Regions from separate parts of the Homo sapiens genome. Here region 1 is linked to region 2. Evidence: fine-mapped expression QTL. A gene starts in region 2. The other region holds a variant in brackets. All regions are shown on one strand. Distances are from middle to middle.

Region 1 (8,322 bases), 86 kb before region 2:
GCCGATGTTCTCCGAAGCGAACGGACCCTCGGGGCTTAAGAGCTCCGTCACCATCGCATCCTCGGGGCTGGGCAGCCCGCCCGGCAGAGGGCCCTCCTCCATGGCGCAGGGCGGCGGGGCGGGATGGCGGGGGCCGCGCACCTGCAACACGCGGCCAGGTGAGAGGCAGCCAGAGGAGAGGACGAGGGGAGGGGCGGCCAGGAAAGGGGACAGCCAAGGGAGGGGCAGCCAAGGGAGGGGCGGCCAGGGGAGGGGACCAGGTGAGGGGCGGCTAGGGGAGGGGGCGGCCTGGTGAGGGAGGGCCAGGTGAGGGGCCCGGGGAAGGGCGACCAGGTGAGGGGGTCAGGGGAGGGGCGACCAGATGAGGGGCGATTAGGTGAGGGGCGGCCAGGTGAGGGGCGGCCAGGTGAGGAGCGACCAGGGGAGGCGGTCAGGTGAGCGGCGACCAGGGGAGGGGCGGCCGGGGAGGGGGTCACGGGAGGGGCGACCAGGGGAGGGGCGGCCAGGGGAGGGGGCCAGGTGAGGGGCGGCCAGGTGAGGAGCGACCAGGGGAGGGAGTCAGGGGAGGGGCGACCAGGTAAGGGGCGGCCAGGAGAGGGGCCGGCCGGGGTGGGGGTCAGGTGAGGGGCGCCCAGGGGAGGGGGCCAGGTGAGGGGCGGCCGAGGAGGGGGTCAGGTGAGGAGCAGCCAGGGGAGGGGGGGCCAGGTGAGGTGCGACCAGGTGAGGGGCGGCCTCGCCCACGGCCCGCCGCCCTCCGCCCACCCGCAGGGGCCCGACCCGGCCCGGCAGCCCCCATCCCCGCCTGCAGAGCCGAGGCCCAGCCCGGGGACCGCCCCGTCATTCCTCCTCGGAGGGACGCACCTGGGGCCGCCGGGGCTGCCGCAGCGTGGAGCGAGCGGGATGGGGCGTGGGCCGGGCCTCAGGCGCAGGCGGCCGTTGGCGGTTGGAGAAGGGGGAAGGGTGAGGGACAGGAACCTGGGGGGAGGGGAAGAGGCGCCCGGGCAGTGGGCGGGGCCTGGGCGTGGGGCGGAGTCGAGGTCGGGGCGGGGAGGTAAAGGCGGGGCCAGGGAGGTGTGGTGGGCGTGGTCTGGGGCGGGAGGAGACAGAGTCGCGAGGGGCGGGGCCTGGACTGCCGCTGTTGCCAGAGCGGGTCAGGGGAGGCACTCCCAGGTTCAGCCGATCCAGGCTCAGGTGGGGAAACTGAGGTCCCCATCAACTCGGGCAGCGCTAAGTGGGACTGCCTAGCTTGGCTTCTGACCTTGGGCTTCAGTTATATTTTTCTGGCCAGGCGTGGTTGCTCACGCCTGTAGTCCCAGCACTTTGGGAGGCCGAGGCAGGCGGATTACTTGAGGTCAGGAGTTCAAAACCAGCCTGGGCAACATGGTGAAACCCCGTCTCTACTAAAAATACAAAAATTAGCTGGCCGTGGTGGCACGCGCCTGTAATCCCAGCTACTTGGAAGGCTGAGGCAGGAGAATCGCTTGAGCCCGGGAGGTGGAGGTTGCAGTGAGCCGAGATCCCGCCACTGCACTCCAGCCTGTGCCACAGAGCTAGACTCCGTCTCAAAAAAATAAATAAAATAAAATAAAACATTTTTCTACACTCGAGCTCTCAAGACAGATCCCGGCCTGGGACGCTGCGGGTGGACAGAGGGCAGGGGCTTGCACCGCACGTTCCCAGCCTTGCACCCACTCCCGGTCCTTGGTGACGCAGCTTACAGGTGCAACTGATGGAGTTGGTCCCGAAATAGAAGTAACAAATACGGCTGGGCGTGGTGGCTCACGTCTGTAATCCCAGCACTTTGGGAGGCCGAGGCGGGTGGATCACCTGAGGTCAGGAGTTCGAGACCAGCCTGGCCAACATATAGTGAAACTCCGTCTCTACTAAAAAATACAAAAACTAGCTGGGCGTAGTGGCGCACGCCTGTAGTCCCAGCTACATAGAAGGCTGAGGCTTGAACCTGGGAGATGGGGGTTGCAGTGAGCTGAGATTGTGTCACTGTACTCCAGCCTGACCAACAGAGAAAGGCTCCCTCTCAGAAAAAAAAAAAAAAACTCACAAATACAATGAAAGTCTCAAATTTTGGGTGGGGAATGAGCTATTTCATCTTTAAGGAGTCAATAGATATCACTGTTTAATCAAGAGGAGGTGAAAGTTTAATTCAAGTGATGGCGAAAACTGCAAAGGGTGTAGAGGGACTGGTGGGAGTGGGTGCTGGGGAGACAGCCTCAGGTACTGTCTACTCAGGTACTGTTTTGGTAAAAATAAAGAATGTAAAACATCAGCTTTCTAATCTCACTTTTAAAAATTAAATACTTTTCTAAATTTTTAAAGGGTAGTACCCAAGGCACAGCAACACCGTGTACTATTTAGTTGTACATTTAACATTCAAAAATCAAGAAAATTTTGCCTGGGGCTGGGCGTGGTGGCTCATGCCTGTAATCCCAGCACTCTGGGAGGCCAAGGTGGTCAGATCACTTAAAGTCAGGAGTTCAAGACCAGCCTGACTAACATGGTGAAACCCTGTCTCTACTAAAAATACAAAATTAGCTAGGCATGGTGGTGCACACCTGCAATCCCAGCTATTTGTGAGGCTGAGGCAGGAGAATTGCTTGAACCTGGGAGGCGGAGGTTGCAGTGAGCTGAGATTGCACCATTGTACTTTAGCCTGGGCAAAAAGATTGAAACTCCATCTCAAAAATCAAACAAACAAAAACAACAACAACAAAAAACACTCACAGAAGCAGAAAAAATAATAAAAATAATAAATCGAAGAGCCCAAGAATTATGCATAGCTTGAGTGGCCCAAGCGAGAGAGTAACCCACAAGGTTGCACCGTTCATTCGTTTACTAATCAGAATCAGACGTCTACTGAGTAGCATCATGCCAGGCATACACAGCCACCTGTGGGGGTCACCCACGGGTTGCAATCAAGCCTGGAGGCTCTGCACCTGCTGCTCCTAGATGCTTGCTGCCCTGCTGCACTGGCCGGGCTGGCTCCGTCGAGTCTCTCAGGTCTCAGCTCAACCCACTCTAAGTGGGTCAACCTCCCTGCCAGCTACCACCCCCTCCCAATGATCCTCTTAGTTGCCTCAGAACACTTAAAATCCTTCAACTGGTTGGCTTGTTCTCTTTTTCCTCTGTGATATGGTTTGGCTCTGTGTCCCCACCCAAATCTCATCTTGAATTGTAATCCCTCTGTGTCAAGGGAGGGGCCTGGTGGGAGGTGATTGGATCAAGGAGGCGGTTCCCCTACGCTGTTCTTGCAATAAGAAGTGAGTTCTCACAAGATCTGATGGCTTAAAAGTGTTCGGCAATTCCCCCTCACTCTCTCTCCTCTGCTGCCATGTAACAGGTTTCTTGCTTCCCCTTCACCTTCTGCCATGATTATAAGTTTCCTGAGGCCTCCCCAGCCATGCTGAACTGTGAGTCAATTGACTGTCTTTCCTTTATACTTACCCAGTCTCAAGAAGTTCTTTACAGCAATGTAAAAATGGACTAATGAGACAGCCAGAACCTGGTGGGGTCACTGCTGTCTCCCCAGTGCCTAGAACAGGCGCTGATATGGTTTGGATGTGTGTCCCCACCCAAATCTCAGGTTCAGTGGTAATCCCTAATGTTGGAGGTGGGGCCTGATGGGAAGTGACTGGATCATGGGCGTGCATTTCTCATGAACAGCACCATCCCTCTTGCTACTGTCCTCACCATAGAGTGCGTGAGTTCCTGTGAGATCTGGTTGTTCGCAAGTGTGTAAGAGAGCACCTCCTCTCTCTCTCTCAGATCTGGTTGTTTGCAAATGTGTAAGAGAGCACCTCCTCTCTTTCTCTCTCTGTCTCCTTTCACCATGTAGAATGCCTGCTCCCCCTTTGCCTTCCACCATGAGTAAAAAGCTGTTTGAGGCCTCCCCAGAAGCAGATGCCTCCATGCTTCCTGTATAGCCTGCAGAACTGAGAGCCAATTAAACCTCTTATAAATTACCCAGTCTCAGCTATTTCTTTACAGCAATGTGAGAATGGCCTAATACAGGTGCTCAAGAAAAACAGAAAAATGGAATTCATGCATTACTTTTAACATATTTATTGAGCATCTTTTATGTGTCAGGCACTGTTCTCAGCATTGAGGCAATGGAATGGATGAATAAATGCACAGCAAGTGAAAATCAACAGGCTTTTCTTTCCAGCCCAGCACA[T/C]GAACTTGGTGATGTCCATGGTCTCCTCCAAGGCCTTGTTTCCATATGCTGAGACTTTCCACTTTGTCTCAAGTATCTGAACTTGGTCCTTGACTTATAATCCCCTTAATATAACAAAAGAGACAGAAACAAATCTTGTAGTAGACTGGGGTTAATGTTTTATTAATGATAACCTACATTCACACTGCATTTCTAAGATTTACATCCAAAGAGCATACTGTATTTACATGCACCGGTCAGCCCAAGATAACAAATTCAAACCATGGCTGCGTTAAGACAATGGTTTGTTCCAATTAAATTAAACAGATAATACTCTTATCACCCCCCTTGGACATGTACAATAAGACCCCTCTTTCTCCCCTCAAGGAATATAAAATTGCATTGATAACTGCACTGATGAGCAACAATTACATTTGAAACATTTAAAACCTGAGAGAGAAACCCAAATATGTTTAAGCACTCACGTCTACACTCAAAATGCCCTGTGAACTCTAGTGTAACACAGATTGCTCAGTGGTCAACAGTGCATGATCTAGCTGGCTCTGATAGGGACTGACGCCGGCTGCTGGCTTTTAACGGGAAGTGCTATTCTTGCCCAGGGCAGAGAGAGCTACATCCCCGCTGCCTGCTTGACGGACAGTCAGGGGCTTTTGTTGTTGGTTTGTTTTTGCTTTTTTTTTTAGACGGAGTCTCGCTCTGTCGCCCAGGCTGGAGTGCAGTGGAGCGATCTCGGCTCACTGCAAGCTCCGCCTCCCGGGTTCACGCCATTCTCCTGCCTCAGCCTCCTGAGTAGCTGGGACTACAGGCGCCCGCCACCACGCCCGGCTCATTTTTTGAATTTTTAGTAGAGACGGGGTTTCACCGTGTTAGCCAGGATGGTCTCCATCTCCTGACCTCGTGATCCGCCCGCCTTGGCCTCCCAAAGTGCTGGGATTACACGCATGAGCCACCGCGCCTGGACGCTTTTTTTTTTTTTTTTGTCTTTTGTTTTCATTTTTTCTTGCTTTCAGGAGAAAAAAAATCTTTGGCCCATAAAGGTGGGATTTTTACATCATGAAGTATACATACATAAAACATGCATGTGGGCCGCGCATGGTGGCTCATGCCTGTAATCCCAGCACTTTGGGAGGCTGAGGCAGGTGGATCACCTGAGGTCAGGAGTTCGAGACCAGCCTGACCAATATGATGAAACCCCGTCTCTACTAAAAATACAAAAATTAGCAGGGCATGGTGTTGGGCGTGTAATCCCAGCTACTTGGGAGGCTGAGACAGGAGAATCGCTTGAACCTGCAAGGCAGATGCTGCAGTGAGCCGAGATTGCACCACTGCACTCCAGCCTGGGCAACAAGAGTGAAACTCCATCTCAAAAAAAAAAAAAAAAAAAAAGGCACGTGTTCTCCGGCAAGCACCTTCCATCGACTCCAACAGTTCAGCCATCGCTGTTGTACTATCGGGGTGCAGCACTCTGAAGGAGTCAGGCCCAACTAGAACCAAGTGGTCAAAAAAATAAATACACAATTTAAAACAATGGACAGCTAAGCTTGTCATGACAGACAGTGGGAATTTCATTCCATGATGCTTCATTTTTGCATTAAATACTGAAGATGACTCAGTGCATAATTGCTTTGTGGTCCATGAGACGCTTTCGTGAAGGCACTCCTATCTGAAGGACAGGCTGGGTGAACACCTAGCACTGTCACTTGAGACATCTTGGCTGGTCACCAAGGTGAGCCGGCATACTGTCTCCATCACCCTCTGGTGAGTCTTTCCCCTCACCGGGTGGGAGGAGAAGGCCATCCCTTGGGGTCGTGGAGCCACTCTCTCCTCACCACGGTGGGCTGCCCTCCCCTTCCTCACTTGCTAGTCCCCGCTTGGTGGCCGATGCCCTGCCCTCCTTGCTGTCACTTTGGGAAAGAGATCCTCCTGAGGCACGTGTCATGTTTTATTCTTGAGTGAATTATCTGACCATCACGGCCCTTGCTCCCCTTTTATGACATGTGCCTGTTATTTCTTTTGTTGCTTATGATGACAAGAAGGCAGTCCCGGGAGGGGAGTCTGGCACAGCTGCCCTTGGGAAGGAACTGGTGTTTCTGAGGGGGAGGGGGCTGGTGGGGTGTAGCAAATGCTTATGTACGGTTATCCATACTCAGTCAATTGTGAAGGGAACAGTATACCCACAATTCCACCCAAAGACTCTACAAAATAAATCTTTCTCTCCATCTCCCTTACATTTAGGGCCTTTCATTTTTAAGGCACTGGGTTGTGAAGACTTGAAGACATACAAGGTCAGTAAAACTGAAGACCTTGCATCCTGCTTGCTTCAAATGTGGAGAGGCAAACACAGGCTACTGGACCAGACGGGAACGGTTACCCACGGTGACAAAAGCAGGTCTCCAAAGCACAGCATTTTGGTTAGTGCATTCCAGATGTGTTAGCTACAACTGGGGACACCAACTTGAATAACACATTTTTCTTTTAACAAAACAAAAGTTTACCCTGCTTGGATGATGCTAAATGCCCTTAAGCACTAGGCCTTCGGTTGCCACTGAGAAAGCACACCATTTCCATTCCACTGTGTGTGAAGCCACAACCCTACTAATTCCTTCATTAACTCAACAAGATTTGCATCCCTTAATAAATCCAAGCCGATGCGGAGACATCAGGGGAGACTTTATCAGATGTCCCCCAAGGGAGGGCAAGTCTGGAAGTAGTGGGGTTATGCTTCACAGGGGAGAGATACTGTTCTAGGAAAAAAAAACACCCACATTTTCTGGAAGGAAAACTGAGTTTTTTTAAGAGCAGTGTTTCATCCCGAGCTAAGGTCAGGATTAATGCCTATTTTTCATTTGGTTTGCATCAGAAGAGCTCGTTTTCCTTCCCAGCAGCTCCAGTGGAATTACTTTTTGGAATTAGAACTGAGACCAAACAAAGTGATGATGTCAGTCATTGCTTCTTTCAGGTGCCTTCCAAAGCGATGAGAATCCTTTCATGTAAAAACAAAAACCAAAAACCTATTAAAACGTGGCCATCCCCACATTTCAAGCTTTTTCATTTGCAATCTGACCCAATGTTTCATTGAAATTCCTTTCTGCCAGTTCTCTAAGATCTGACCAACGTCTTAAAGCTTAACTTAGACATTCCAGAGAAATGCTGAGGGTAAAGAGATGACAGCTGATGTGTTTGTGCGGGTGTGTTGTCGATCTAAGCCTTCCCCTAATGCCAATGCGTTTATCCCACGGAAAACACAATGACCATCCTGAGCATGGTGGCTCATGCCTGTAATCCCAGCACTTTGGAATCGCTTGAGCCCAGGAGTTCAAGACCAGCCTGGGAAACATGGTGAAACCACATTTCTACAAAAAATACAAAAATCAGCCAGGTGTGGTGGCACTCCCCTATAGTCCCAGCTACTCAGGAGGCTGAAGTAGGAGGATCCCCTGAGCCCAGGAGGCTGAAGCTGCAGTGAGCCGAGATCACACCACTGCACTCTAGCCTGGGTGGCAGAGTGAGACCCTGTCTAAAACAAACAAACAAACAAACAACAAAAGAAAACCGCAGTGAACAAATAAACCCCAACTTCCTCTGTTAACAGCGACAGTGGCATGGGTTGCCAGGCTATGTACGACAAGGAAAGCAGAATATAAATAAGGGCAATGTGCCATGCTAGGGAGGAGGTCCCTTGTTCCATCCACAGAGGAAGCCGGGGGTCCCCTGCTCTGTATGCAGATTTCTTAGTGTGTACCCATTATTTTTAGTTCATCTTCCAAGTGCTAAAGAGTCTGAAAGTTACAGCAGCACTCCAACGTTAAGCTTCAAAACCATTGCTGCCAACAGAGGTAAACATGTTAAACCAAATTAGATACATTTCCTTTTTTTTTTTTTTTTTTCTGAGACGGAGTCTCACTCCATCACCCAGGCTGGAGTGCAGTGGCATGATCCTGGCTCACTACAACCTCCACCTCCCGGGTTCAAGCGATTCTCCTACCTCAGCCTCCTGAGTAGCTGGGATTACAGGCGTGTGCCACCACACCAGCTAAGTTTTGTATTTTTAGTAGAGGCGGGGTTTCACCATGTTGGCCAGGATGGTTTCAAACTCCTCACCTCAAGTGATTGGCCAGCCTCAGCCTCCCAAA
Region 2 (8,322 bases):
CAAAATCTCCAAGAAAAGAAAGGGAAGGAAGGAAGGAAGGAAGGAAGGAATGAAGGAAATAAAGAAAAAGGAAAGCAAACCTCCATGTATTAAATCTTTTTCAGGGCACCAGAGGAGATGACAGTTGGCAAATCAGGGATAAATGCTTTTATAAATGAAGAATCATTTTATAAAAAGTCAAATTTCAGTGATAGCATATGACAGTTTTGTCTCTTCTCTTCTCTTTTCTTTTCTTTTTTGAGACGGAGTCTTGCTCTGTCAACCAGGCTGGAGTGCAGTGGTGTGATCTCAGCTCACTGCAACCTCCAACTCCTGGGTTCAAGCGATTCCCCTGCCTCAGCCTCCCGAGTAGCTGGGATTACAGGCGTGCATCACCATGCCCAGCTACCTTTTTGTATTTTAGTAAAGACGAGGTTTCACTGTGTTGGCCAGGCTGGTCTCGATCTCCTGACCTCATGTTCCGCCCATCGTGGCCTCCAGAAGTGCTGGGATTACAGGCGTGAGCCACTGCGCTTAGCTGACAGTTTCTCCAGGGCATCAGAACACAGCGTTAGGAAAGCTGTCTGTGGTGACTCAATGTGACCTGATGACCACAGGACCCCCTGAGTGAGCCAGGGCTGGTGGGCGAAGCAGACATCACTGCAGAGAGCTAGCAGCTTGCTGTGGGGAGAGAATAGGGACGTGGTCTCGGGTCCAGATGTCCTCAGCCACAGTAGCAGCATGAAGGAAGGTGCATTGAGGGGGGACCCAAATGCTCCTCTGCTCCCTGCCTCCCTCACAGGAACTTCCCATAACACAAACAGGAATAACAGTGCCCCTCGTCAGGCGGTTATGGCAATCCAGAGTGGAAAAAGGGTGCTTCGGGCAGGGCGAGGGGGCTTATGCCTGTAATCCCAGTGCTTTGGGAGGCTGAGGTGGGAGGATCGCTTGAGGCCAAGAGTGCACTATGATTGCGCCACGGCACTCCAGCCTGGACAACAGAGCAAGACCTTGTCACTAAAGAAAAAAAAAGAAAGGATGTCTCAAATGTTCTGTCATTCCTTCAACACATATCTGAATGTCTGCTCTGGGCCACTGAAATAATGAGGAAGGTGAATGTAAGGGTGAGTTAGGAAGAAGTAGCAGCACTTAGCCCCGGCTGCATGTGGGGGCTTAGGGAACAGGAAGAATGCAGGCTGGCTCTCCGGCTCCTGGGCTGGGTACCACAAACCACCCGCATCAGGAGTATGAAGCCTTCCTTTCTTAACATAAAGGACTTGGTGTCCAATGCCTAACCTATATCCCTCAGGAAGCAGAGCGGTACCCACCCTACTGCCCAACCCTCCAAGGTGACGGTGACCCTCCTGCACACCCTGGAGAGGGCACGCCTCACTCAGCAGCATGATTTCTTTCACTGTTAACTTCCAAAGACGTTCCTGGACCGAAGAACAATCCTCACCAAAAAAAAGGCAAAGGCAGACACTTCTGAGGCCGTCAAGATACCCAAATAGGGTAGCTGGCCTCAGCCCAGGGCCTGCTGGAGATCCAACCTTCACCTGACATTTGGATGGGGTAAAAGTTGAAATTTACACAAGGTAACAAATATTTGAAGCTAGCAAGCAGAAAAAAGTCCTTACTTGTGTTAAGCAATCAATTTGTTTAAAAAACATATCCTGTACATGTCGTCAAAGAAACTGGTAATAGTGGTGGCATCTGGAGAGGGGAACCAAGTGAGAAGGACTCTACTCTGTATCTGCACCTTTTTAAAAAAAAAAAAAAAAAAACAGAGACAGGGTCTGGCTGTCACCGAGGCTGGAGCGCAGTGGTGCAATCATAGCTCACTGCAGTCTCCACCTCCTGGGCTGAAGCCATCCTCCCACCTCAGCCTCCTGAGTAGCTGGGACCACAGATGCACTCCACCAGGCCCTACTAATTGTTTGTAGAGACAGGGGTCTGGCTCTGTTGCCCAGGTTGGTCTCGAATTCCTGGCCTCAAAGCAATCCTCCCACCTTGGCCTCCCAAAGCATTGAGATTACAGGCGTGAGCCACGGGGCCGGGCCCATCTGTGCCTCTTTAACTTTGCATCGTATGCTTATATCGCTTATTTGTAAAAACAAAACAAAACAAAAGTCTTCACAAGAAAAGCTCAAGACTGGCAGAAGACAAGTGAGGCCTCTTTAAAGTGTGTTGGAGAGATTCTCGAGAGATTCTCTCCAACACACTTTAAACAAACAATCTCGAACAGCCATTTTAATTCTTAAAGCACCAATTCTTCCGGAATTCAAGTTCAGGCTTCCACCAGCAACAGAATTCTGGCCTGCCAATAATAACCATGCAGAGTGACTAAACATTTTTTCCAACAAAGGAAAAAATGCAAACGATCAAAGTGCAGAAGCAGCCCTTGGCCCGCGCAGGCTCCGGTTTCCGCCTCCCGCCGCCGCTGCCACCGCCCCTGCGCCTTTAGATTTCGGGCAGCAAGTTTAATTGCTCGCTTGGAAAGCGTCCTCGGAAGGGCACCGCCAGCAACTGCGGCTTCGCGCCCCGCCCCTTCCCCCAAGCCCCGGGCGGCGTCACGTGACGGCTGAGAAAAGTAGGGGAAAGGTCAGCAGCAGCCCCGCCCCCAGGCTGGCGCGTCCCAGGCGCTCGGATCCTGTTCCACCCGCCGTGCCCACAGAGACCTTCCGGAGCGAGTTGGCGCGCGTCCCTGTGGCCACCCCAGCGACAGCGGGAGAAATGCAACGCACCTCTCCGTGGGAAGGTCGAGCCCTGCGGTGCCCAGCTGTGGGGACAGCTCGGTGCTCAGTGCTTCTGATGACAGATGCTGCATCCAACGAGCCAGAAACGCAGGCACCGCGCTCAAGAGCCCAGGGCGCGTCTAAAAGGGGCTCACTGTGAAGCCTCAGTGAAAACTGACGGTGTTTTTATGAATGAGCACTCGGGGCCAGGGTTGGGTAAGGGCAGGCCCTCGTTCCAGGGCTCCCCGGAGGCCCAACTTGACCGCTCGGTGACCACTGGTCCGGGGCCGGGGCCAAACGCAGCAGCCGCAGCAGTATCGGAAGGGACCCAGTTTAATTCTCTTCCCCTCCAGGGTAGGCGGCTTGTTTTTAGTACCAACTCGAAACGTTATTTTGGCCTGTGCATGATGCCAACTTCTGCCACTTTGAAACAAAGTGTGTGCACTCCCAAACCTGGCCCTTTTTATTGTTTGATTCCAACTGTTAAGATAGGGTTCAAGTGCAAGGTCTAGGCTAGCAATGCTTCACAGGAAGGAAACCAGTAATTTACATGCGAAAAGCAGTCCACAGGCTCTTGGTATTGAGGCAAAACCAATCCAAAGAACCAGCTGCGAATGCTGATAGTCCCCAGACCAACTGACAGCTGGATGTTCGCTGGCCTCAGCGGTGTGCATTCTCAGCGACACTTATGTCCTCAATTTATTGCTACGTTCACTCGGTCAGAGTCGCCTTAAAGAATTTGGAAAGGCCCGGGGGTGGGGGTGCTTCCTGGCATAAATAGAAGACCAGTGCTCAGCCATTTTTTATTCACTTGGTTTGTGGCTTAGAATGAAATAAACATGCTTGCATATCTGGAATGACCAGAAACCGGACACCTGTGGAAGAAAATGGTGTAACAAAATACAACGTTGCAAAAGGTAAAACCGATTTTCATTTTATTCGGTAACTTACAAAGTTACCAGCTTCCTACTAAAATCTGCCCTTAAATATTTTATAACACACGGAGCCGAGAGGAACCGAAAGCCTGTGCCGAGTTGGGAATATTAACTTTGTTATGTATTTAACCTGGTAGGTAGTTGGGATTTTTAACTCTCTGAGTTGTTTTCTTTTTTTAAAGTAAGATCGGCCCTCATCTTTGAGTTCTGCGGCTTTAACGAAAGCCAAGGGCGGATTTACATTATAAAGACGCTGACCCATGGCCTCTCCTGACAAACCGAAAGAAGCCGGCTGTTGGCTGGCCGCGGCGGTGGCTCCGAGAAGGGGCTGCCCCGCGTGGCCCTGACCGCACCGTCGGGCTCGCAGGCCAAGTTCGCCAGGGCACGGCCACGTGACACCCCCACCCTCCCGCGGCCCCGCCGCTCCCAGCCCGGCACGACCTTGGGCACATGCTCCGCGCCCACCCGCCCTTGACCCAGCGCTGCACGGGAGAGGCTGCGGGGCGCTCCCAAGCAGGCACTGGGCCCGGCACCCTCATCCTGCTCACGGCAGCGCTCGGACCGCGCCTGGAGTCCCTGCGCCAAGGGCGTGTCCCGACGGCTGCACCGCGAGGGCGGGCATGGGGAGGGGGACCGGGGAGACGGACGCTGGGATGGGGTCAGCGGCGCCCTGCCGAATCCCGAGGGCCGAGCACCCCTCCCTCAGCCGCACTGCACCTGCCCGTAGGTGACCAACCCACGGGCGGACCCCCAGACCCAATCCTCTCCAGAGCCAGGGTGGGATGGGCAGGGACAGGAGCCGGAGGCCCTACTGGCCCCGGGCGAAGGCATCCTGGAAAGCATCCAGAGCGTCCAGCATCCCTCCCGCGGCCACCCGCAGGCTGACCGACCCCTGGGCAGACCCTCAGACTCAATCCAGTCCAGGGCGGATTAAGGAGTGGGAGACAAGGGAGCCGGTGGCCCCGCTGGCCCCGGGCCGGAGGCGTCCAGCCAAGTCCGGAGGGCCGAGCATCCCTCCCGCGGCCGCACGGGACCCGCCTGCGGATGGACCGACCCCCGGTGGACCCTCAGACCCAATCCCCTGGGGAACATGGGGAGCCCCGGCCTCTTTCTGGGTTCAGGATCTCCACAACCCCGCCGTCCGGGGGGAATACCGGGGTTCCTCTCGGCGCCCCGGTTCCGGCGGCGTCCCCCACCCGGTCCGGTTCCCGGCAGCCCCGCGCCCCGCCCGTCCCCGGCCCCCGCAGCCCGCAGGGCCGCCCCGCCACCCTCCCCACCGCGGGCGACCGGGCCTCACCGAGTCAGCTACGGAGGTGCGGCAGCGGCAGCGGCAGCGGCGGCGGCGGCGGCGGCGGTGGAGTGAACGAGCGGCGAGCGGGAGCCGGGGAAGGAGGGCCGCGGGCGAGGCCGAGCGCACCCGACGCCGGCAGCAGCGGATTGGCTGAGGCGGGTCCGGCTGCGGCGCCTGCAGGCGGGTGACTCCCGGCGCGCGGAGGGCGGGCCCGGGGCCTCGGCGGGGCGGGGCGTCCGCGGGGCTAGGAGGGGAGGGAAACTGAGGCTCGAGCGGGTGCTCGCGTCCTCGACCTCTGCCGGAATGGGGTCTAGGACGAGATTCCTCACCCTCCGAGCCTCAGTTTCCTCATCCGTAAAACGAGCCATCTCGTGGAGGCCGTGCGCATAAAATCGCTTAGCTCCGTGCCTGGCTGATCCTCGCGACTTATCTATCGGCATTGCCCCGTGTAATGCTCCAGGCACCCCCTGATGGTATTCACCCCTGACTCTTTCATGCAGACAAGGGTCGCGGGCCAGGAAATAAGTTACCCCACATCACCGAGCTGAGAAGCAACCGATCCACAGGGAGTGGTGGGGCGCGCCTGTAATCCCAGCTACTCGGGAGGCGGGAAGTCGCTTGAAGCCAGGAGTTCGAGGCCAGCCTGGGCAACGTAGCGAGACCCCGTCTCTAAAAAAAAAAGCGCGGGGAAGTGATAGATCGGACATTGGGTCCAGATCTGATTCCACAGCCCATGCCCCAAATCAGACCTTATACCACGAGTGGCAGTCATCGCGATCCAGAGGCAGCGTGGCTCCTCCTCATCTAGCTAGGATAAAAATGCCTCACTTGGGGGGCTTTGGTGAGATTTACTAAAATAATTCTTCCAGCGTCAAGAACATAATAGGTGCTGGGAGAGGAGTAGCTGGAGGCCAGGGCAGAGCGACCGAGAGACCCTTGTGCTGGAGCTCGGGAGAGGGGCCGGGAGCGGGAACTGAACATCCACCGGTCCCAGGAGTCTAGGGCGAGCGCAGCTGCAGGGGACCCAGGGGGTTGAGGGGGAGGGAGAGGGGCCCCAAGCGTAACAGGAGGGCCAAGGGGGTCTTCCTGACCGGGAGCCACCCCTCCCCTATCTTTGCCCGCAATGCTTCCAGGCGCGAGCTGGCGGCTCTGCATACAGCAGGTGCTCCATAAATGCACCGATGTTATGAACAAAGACTCTTTTAAACCTCTTTTATGAACCCTGCTCTTTTTAAGTTCGACCACTTCTTCTAGTTATGAAAAAATCCATGTTTGCAACCATCCTTCTTTCTGTATCATTTAGTTGTTACCGCAGAAGAATTTAGAAGAGAAAATGAAAGTTCTCCTTTGATCCCGCCCCCCACCACCGCTGCAGTTAACTCTCCCTGCGGTTCCCGGGCTCGCTGTTTTAAAGGAAGGCTAGGATGCAAGCTGTCTGTAAGGCTGTTTTGTTTTCACTTGGCTTACGTCGTAGACAGGTCTCTGCTGGGGGACGGAGATGACCACCGGCCTTCCCAAGGCTGCATAAGATTTCCTTTGACTATGCTGTGATCCATTTACGCGGCCCCCATTGGACAATTAGGGCCTCCTCCCCGCCCCCCACCCCACCATTGCAGGTATAAATAAAAGCTGCGTTGGCCGTCGATGTACCTCCTGGAGCTCCTGATTATCCTGTAGGATAGATCCCTGGAGGGGAAGCAACCAGGCACGTGCGACATTTTGGTGACACAGGCCAAGCTACCATGCCGAAAAGTTTACCAACTTCCACTGCCACCCGCGCGTGCAAGCGGGGCCCTGTCTCCGATTATGGATTATTTTAATCTTTGCCAATCCTAAAAGGAGGGGTGGGGGAGGGAAGAATCTCTCATCTCTCCTTTTAATTTGCATTTCTTTGAGGTTAGAAGTTGGGGGTTTGTCCCCCTGCTTGCGCTTGTCTGGACCACCAGTGAGCCCAGGCACTCGACCCCCGCAGATTTCACCGCCCCAAGAGGCCAGTGGGCTGGGCCAGGGCACACGTTCCTGACGCGCGGCTGCACCCCACGAGCCCGGGCGGCTCTCGCGCGTGAGGCTCTCCTTGCACGTGGGCCTTCGCGGTTTGCACTACGGAAGCTGGACTGTCATTCTCACCGCAAATGCCCTTCCCTCCTTTCCCTGGAACCTCAGCCACCGACAGGTCCCCGCTCCAAGGTCATTTCCTCCCTCGCTCAGCGCCCCGGTGCGCGCCCAGCTGGGATTGGCCCCGCGCCCTGTCTGTTCCCAGGGCTCTTCGGCCTTGACCGTGCGCCCTTCCCTGCGCGCCGCCTAGGTGCCACCTGCAGGCCGGGCGGGGCAGGGACAGGGACCCAGTCTGTGGGGACGCCGAGGCGCCACGCTCACCTGTGCCATGGTGGCCGGGCTCTCGGCAGCTGCAACGAGCCCGCGCCGGCCTGCAACTGCAGCCGCACTGGGGAGGCCTTATTCCCCTCCCGCCGACCACGCTGCAGCTCTCCTGCCCGGGTCTGCGGCTCCCGCGGCTGCGTAGCTGAGTCTATTAATAAAGAAGCAGAGAACGAGGCCTCCCGGGGAGCTCCGGGCCTGAGCCTCAGTTCCCTGGGGCCAAAAACGTCTCCATGTCTGCCTCTGAAACTAGAGTAATCTTTCTCAAGCCTTGTTTTTTACAGATTCTGCCCCAGTTTGAATACTGTAGCAATTGCCTACCATAGCTACAAGAAAAATTTTCTTTTTAATGCAGGTAATGTTTTTATTTACCGCTAAGATTTCTCTTTTTACTCAAAAAATACTTTTTTATGGAAAAATCCAAACCTTTTTATTCATTCGTTCATTCATTCATTCATTTTTGAAACAGGATCTCTCTCTGTTGCCCATGCTGCAGGGCAGTAGCAAAATGACAGCTCACTGCAGTGTTGACATCCTAGGCTCAAGCAATCCTCCTACCCCAGCTTCCTGAGTAGCTGGGACCACAGGCAAGTCCCGCCATGCCTGGCTAATATTTTGAAAAATCCAAACCTTTGAAAAAAATTAACCAGAATAGTATAATAAAGGCCTATACAACCAAAACTCAACATCAACCATTATGGAGCTAGGGCCAAGGTGTATGCCTGTGTTCCTACCCACTCCTGCCCAGTCCTACTGTTTATTTTAAAGCAAATTCAGAAATCCTACCGTTATGTCCACAAATTCCTTTTTTTTTTTTTGACATGGAGTCTTGCTCTGTCCCCCAGGTTGGAGTGCAGTGGCGCAATCTCACCTCACTGCAACCTCTGCCTCCAGGGCTCAAGCGATTCTCATACCTCAGCCTCCCGAGTAGCTGAGATTACAGACGTGCATCACCATGCTCGGTAATTTTTGTATTTTTAGTAGAGACAGGGTTTCACCATGTTGG

Direction of the effects. Positions count from the first base shown, and alleles are read on the strand shown. Sizes are in standard deviations (SD) of each study's normalised expression.
For the expression in monocytes of the gene that starts at base 5,088 in region 2, C is the high allele of the variant in region 1 and T is the other (large effect, 1.4 SD a copy in Fairfax 2014).

The links.
Region 1: its variant is fine-mapped to the expression of CPT1A in monocytes (CEDAR, PIP 0.95). The same link has a PIP of 0.9 or more in NK cells, monocytes after LPS and monocytes after interferon gamma.

What each region holds. Positions count from the first base shown.
Region 1 is chr11:68,750,559-68,758,880 of GRCh38, forward strand. It overlaps TESMIN (testis expressed metallothionein like protein), which reads right to left and starts at 962. Exons shown (of 10, transcript NM_004923.3): 1 at 862-962; 2 at 1-141. The coding sequence starts at 102. It overlaps CPT1A (carnitine palmitoyltransferase 1A), which reads right to left. Exons shown (of 19, transcript NM_001876.4): 19 at 4,325-7,172. The coding sequence ends at 7,086. RefSeq lists an enhancer at 89-1,074 and silencers at 775-1,064, 1,075-1,194. The variant T/C (reference allele first, on the strand shown) is at 4,190.
Region 2 is chr11:68,836,829-68,845,150 of GRCh38, forward strand. CPT1A (carnitine palmitoyltransferase 1A) reads right to left here and starts at 5,088. Exons shown (of 19, transcript NM_001876.4): 1 at 4,947-5,088. RefSeq lists silencers at 1,794-1,873, 3,927-4,206, 4,257-4,356, 4,617-4,696, 4,907-4,956 and 1 more and enhancers at 3,114-3,273, 5,482-6,007, 6,730-6,869, 6,910-7,119.